Linked DNA regions of Homo sapiens: region 1 is linked to region 2. The links come from fine-mapping of genetic effects on gene expression. Tissue or cell type: whole blood. Region 2 holds a variant in brackets; the other region holds the start of a gene. All regions are shown on one strand. Distances are between the middles of the regions. Region 1 holds the start of PCOLCE2 (procollagen C-endopeptidase enhancer 2). Region 2 overlaps PCOLCE2 (procollagen C-endopeptidase enhancer 2).

Region 1 (2,904 bases), 28 kb before region 2:
AAAACACTTATGCTATTAGATAGCATATTCTTGAAATGCGTGCAAAATCAACAACCATTTATTCTCCTCTTCCCTGTTTTAAAGACATTTTTATTGGGTTGAGAGTGTTTCAGGATATAAAGCAGTTTGCCAAATTCTGTCACCCTTTTTTTTAATGTCATAAAGGGTGTGGTGCCTGTAGAGAAGTTTTGAAAGTTGTACTTTATGATGTTTTTGCCTTCACTTTTTAAAAAAATGGTAAGATAATCTAAGTCCTGTCCGTATATTCTGGTTCCTAGTATAGGCTTCAGGGTGCACTCACTATGAAAAGTCAGAATATTTCCTGTAGCCAGTTTTACTTACTTCCTTGCCAGGAGTGTTTAGGTTCTTTTTTTTTTTTTTTTCTTTTTTGAGATGGAGTCTCACTCTGTCGCCCGGGGCTGGAGTGCAATGGCGTGATCTCGGCTCACTGCAACCTCCGCCTCCCGGGTTCACGCGATACTTCTGCCTCAGCTTCCCGAGTACCCGGGATTACAGACGCACACCGCAACACCTGGCTAATTTTTTGTATTTTTAGTCGAGGCGGGGTTTCACCATCTTGGCCAGACTGGTTTCGAACTCCTGACCTCGTGATCCGCCCGCCTCGGCCTCCAAAAGTGCTGGGATTACAGGCGTGGGCCATCGCGCCCACCCGTGTTTAGATTCTTAACAGCTCATTATTAGAAATAAAGTCTCGATAAGAACTACTTTAATACTTAATTTTCTTGCTTAGAAAGGTGAAAACAATTTAGAAGGAACAACGTGAGGCATCAAAGTTAAGCTGTATCTCCCATAGCTGGTGATTATTAAAAATCTCTATGAATCTAGTCTGTTCCTGTCATTCTTTTATTAATCCCTGGTTATTGGGAAGCTCTTAACAAAATAAATGTTTAAAATTATATTTCTGTAATTAAGTAAAAGAGAGTATTGATTCCACAAGGCTAGAATTGTTCGTCTAAGAAAAACGAATTCTCCGTAAATTTTAACCCGTTAATACCACAGAAAGATGCTGTTGGAAAGGTCTAAGAACAGAGAGATGCAAGCAGAGAAACACCATTTTCAGAACATGACATGGGATGGTGAGATTTGCTGATTTGGTTCCGTCTTCATTATCTGACATTTAATGACAGTTCACACAGAAATCGCTCGCCTGAAAACCCGTGTTTAAATCCCGGCACAGAGACTGTCTTCCTTGTCATTGTCATACCAGTAAAAAAAAGAAAAGTATCTAGAGAGAGAGAGAGGAGAATAAGCACAGAAGTTAAAATACAATAAAATCCCTTTTCCCTTTCTTTCCTTGGATCTGGGTTTTGAAGGAGACAAAGAAGGACCCCCAGGCTTTCCAGCAGCCAGCAAGCGCTATTACTTTTTATTTAAAAGCAACTGGGAAAAACATTCCCCAAAGCAAAACCAGAAGCCCTCCCTGAGAATCGTCTCTGGGCGTCGGGGCCCGGGCCGCTGGGGTGCCACTCCGCAAGGGGTTCCTCTTCTCCCCGGGGTCCCTGAGGGCTGGACGAGAGAGGACCCGTCGGTCCCGGGGTGCCGGGAGGAGACGTTCGCCCGCCCCACGAGAGGGGGCGGCTCTGGCCTCGGAGCCGCCCCTCCTGCCGCCGGAGAACAAACGGGATATTCAGCAGTGGCCTGTGGCTGCCAGAGCAGCTCCTCAGGGGAAACTAAGCGTCGAGTCAGACGGCACCATAATCGCCTTTAAAAGTGCCTCCGCCCTGCCGGCCGCGTATCCCCCGGCTACCTGGGCCGCCCCGCGGCGGTGCGCGCGTGAGAGGGAGCGCGCGGGCAGCCGAGCGCCGGTGTGAGCCAGCGCTGCTGCCAGTGTGAGCGGCGGTGTGAGCGCGGTGGGTGCGGAGGGGCGTGTGTGCCGGCGCGCGCGCCGTGGGGTGCAAACCCCGAGCGTCTACGCTGCCATGAGGGGCGCGAACGCCTGGGCGCCACTCTGCCTGCTGCTGGCTGCCGCCACCCAGCTCTCGCGGCAGCAGTCCCCAGAGAGGTAACGCGACCCCTGCCCGGGCTCCCTTTCTCTCCTTTCCCTTCCTCCACCCCTGCAGCCTCGCCTGCTGCTTTACTCAACCCGCTTCGGCGCGCCTGGGTGACCCAGCGCTCGACCCTGCGCTCCCGCGCGGTGCAGGCGTCCGCCACCCTCGGGTAGGCTAAGCCCGGGACTTCGGGACCCATCCTTGCTCGCGGGGCTCCCTCCTGGGTCCCCAGCCCGGCCTGCCGGATGGCCCTGCAGCTGGCTTGGCCACCACGTGGCGGGGCTTAATCTGACTTGTGTCTCCCCTCTCCTCGTGTCTATGGGGCCAGAGGGAAGCACTGGGGCCCAAATATGTGGATTTTGGTTTACCGCTGTTTTTTTTCCTTCCCCGAGAGGCTTTGCCCAGAGACGTAAACTAGGGAACAACCCTAGCGGCGCGGCGCCTAGGGAGCCGCTCCGGAAAGTTAACTCTTCGCCAACCTCTGGAAGGCCCCAGGAGCTGGGCTGTGGGACCTGCCCGGTGGCCAACTTTGGCATCACCTCTTCAGCCTCCATCAACATCAGCCTCCCTTTCGATGGGAAGCTCTGCCAATGGCGAGTGATTTTCAGAAAGGGGGAGGAGAACTGGGCATCTCTCCAAATATGGGAACGACAAACTTTTTTTATATTAACCAATTGCTTGCCTGTCTTTCTTTAAAACCATGCTTCTCATTCAGCCTGGCTCTTACCTTCTCTCCCACTCCCCCAGTTAAATTGATGTATTTACCATTTTCCTACAAGACTTTGCCACAATGCCGAGGACTTGATTATACATATATATAATCTTGTGTTATTATGATGGAGACAGATGGCGCTGGACTGAATGCTTTGTCAGGCTATAATTTAAATATTCTAGG
Region 2 (2,904 bases):
ATGTTTATAATAGCATTATTTATATTAATGAAAATTTGGAAACATGCTAAATTTAGAAAAATTTGAGATTTCTTGTATAAATGATGGTGCAAGTGTACATTAGAATAGTATAAAGCCATTACAGATGGTAGTATAGCTGTCTTTCAGTCCTTTGGAGTTCTCTGGATATTTGATAGGTGCTTAACAGATCTGGGTTCCATTTTAAAAATATACTCTTATACATTATTTTATAATGTTATACATGACATTGTCTTCTAGATAACCTACAAATACAGCATCTATCATTCTTATTATGTCCTAATAAAGATCACCTCAGTGGCTTCTCGTGAAACCTGATGAATTAAGCATTTATTTATGTATTTAAGCATTTATTTCAGTATTTCTCTTCCCACCAAAATTACAGTAAGGGAATTGAAAAGTTTAAACTCACAGGAAAAATGGAATTGGAACAGAATTAATAGTACATGAGAGATACCAACAAGATTTTGGAAGATAAGAAAGCAGATGGTCAGTGGTGACTGAATTAACAGAAGAGAGAGAACGAACACTCCCCTGCCAGAGGAGAAGGGAGGTGTCAGTAGGAAACAAGCCGATTTGTGCCACAGAATTCTAGAAAGGCTCTGGAGCTGGAGGCACCTGGTTTCTTGGAAGGCAGGAGGGCAGATGAGGTTAGAAGTTGGAGTTCTGTTTGAAGGCCTCTGTAAGAGCGGTTAACCCTACAGGTTCCCTCCTCCACCTCCAGCAGCAAGGGTGCTGTCTCTCTTCTACCTCCCCACCTTCTCCCTCCAGCCTGGCAGGGAGTATGCTCTGGGAACCACAGGGGTTCTGGGCTTCAGAACTGCAAGCCTAGCAGAAGAGGTCAGGCCCAGGTGTGGCACTGAAAACAGGGTAATTACAGTCTGTGTACTAGAATGGTGAGACCCCGGCCCCACCTCTTTCCCTGCTCCTCCGATGAAAGCTGCAGCAAGGTCTTTACACCTCAGGCGAGGCATGGAACAATCTTAGAGAAAATGAACAGCCCTTGAGAAAGGACCTCTATCCAGATACTGACATTTGGGAGGCCCAAGGCAAAAGCCAGCTCGTCCCCATCACACTGGTGACAAGCCCTGCCACAGAGCTTCCAGTCAGCCTCACCTCAGTTCTGAATGTGAACAGCCAGTTGGGGATTACTAGACATTTGAGGAAAGCCTCTTACATGAAAAGGCAGAGCCCAAACCGAGGGAAACAAAAACTCCAAGGCAACAGAAACAGTGCAGAGCAGAAGAAAATGTCAAAATAATAATCATTATCGTCCTCAGGGAGATGTGAAAAGACACTGTGCACATAAAATCAAAGCAGGATACTAAAAACAAAGGAAACAACAAGAAAAACACTGTTGGAAATTTAAAACTTGATAATAGAGATAAAAAAATTAGTATCAGGGCT[A/GGAAGATA]AACTTGACACTCAGCAGGTAGAACAAAATAAGAGGTAGAGTATTGAAGAGAAAAGATAAGAAAATTAGAGAATCCTGTCAGGGAAGTCCAAGTCTGACTAACGAGAGTTCTAAAAAGAAAGAACAGGGAATTTGGAGAGGAGGGAGTTATCAAAGAAATAACACTCAGCACAAATGAATGAAGAAAGATAAACACCAAGGTGCATCTTTGTTAAATTTACTCACAAAAATCCTACAACTCTCTGCAGAGGAGGACAGTCACATAGAAGGGGAAAGAACAGCATCAGCCTATTGCTGGAAGCTAGAAGGCAGTGGAGCAAAGCCTTTAGCGTTCTGAGAAAACCATTTAAAGCTACAATTCTGTACCTTGCCAAACTGGCAGACAAGTGTTGAGTACAGAATAATAAAGACATTTTCAGAGGTGTACTATCTGAAACTTTTAATCTCTGTACACCTTTGGTAAGAAAACTAAAGGAGGATGATCTCCAGAAAAATGAGGGAATAAAACAAGCAAGGAAAATGACCTAGAAGCCCTGGGAATGGGGGTTCCTGAATTGGTGAAGAAGTGAAGTCCCAGCCCACAGCTGTGCTGCAGGCCTTGAGAGTGACCAGTCCAGACTGGATAGAGGGTGGGCAGGAGGAAGGAGAGCTCCAGAATGGGTGTTTCCAAGAAGAGAATGGAGCTTGATAGAATACTGGTGCCTGGCCGGTATTGAGAGGGGTTTTAGTGATAGGCACATAGAAAACTAAGCTAACTTAAAGAACAAGGCATGGGCCGGGAGTGGTGGCTCACACCTATAATCCTAGCACTTTGGGAGGCCGAGACAGGCGGATCAGTTGAGGTCAGGAGTTTGAGACCAGCCTGACCAACATGGTGAAACCTTGTCTCTAGTAAAAGTACAAAATTAGCTGGGCGTGGTGGTGGGCGCCTGTAATCCCAGCTACTTGGGGGGCTGAGGCAGGAGAATAGCTTGAGCTTGGGAGGCAGAGGTTGCAGTGAGCCGAGATCGCGACATTGCAATCAAACAAAACAACAACAACAACAACAACAACAAAAAGGCAATTATTAGCTTTAGGAAAAATGAAAAAAAATATTAGCCCAGCAGTGAAAAATTTAATATTCATGTGGCTGTAGTCATGAAAATCTTGAATATGGATTTAACCAGAATTTTTGACAGAGGAATAGGGGGAATAACAGGAAGCAAAGAGGTGAAGTTTAAAAGGGCTAAGTCAAGAAGTAGCAGCATAAGCATATAATATATTAAGCAACAAGGAAATAAATTTCACGCAAACTGTCTGAAAGAATTACACTGGTTGCTTCTGAGGAGTGGCTGTCAGGGGCAGGAAGAGGGCAAGGACTTATTTCCCATTGCTGTTAAAAACTATGGACATACTTTTATATTGTAAACTATGCACATACTTTTTAATATAATAATTGGATTTAAAAACAATTTGTTCTCTTTTGTAGCAATTTAATGC

Evidence for each region. PIP is the estimated chance that this variant, and not a neighbour inherited with it, causes the effect.
Region 1: PCOLCE2 starts here. The variant in region 2 is fine-mapped to the expression of PCOLCE2 in whole blood (TOPMed, PIP above 0.99).

Annotation. Positions count from the first base shown.
Region 1 is chr3:142,887,933-142,890,836 of GRCh38, reverse strand. PCOLCE2 (procollagen C-endopeptidase enhancer 2) reads left to right here and starts at 1,754. Exons shown (of 9, transcript NM_013363.4): 1 at 1,754-2,023. The coding sequence starts at 1,941. LOC124909443 (a long non-coding RNA gene) reads right to left here and starts at 2,573. Exons shown (of 2, transcript XR_007096122.1): 1 at 2,378-2,573; 2 at 70-1,246. RefSeq lists a silencer at 1,762-1,811.
Region 2 is chr3:142,860,002-142,862,905 of GRCh38, reverse strand. All of the region lies in intron 2 of PCOLCE2 (procollagen C-endopeptidase enhancer 2), which reads left to right. Among named protein-coding and RNA genes, the nearest start is that of PCOLCE2, 28 kb to the left of the region's middle. The variant A/GGAAGATA (reference allele first, on the strand shown) is at 1,426.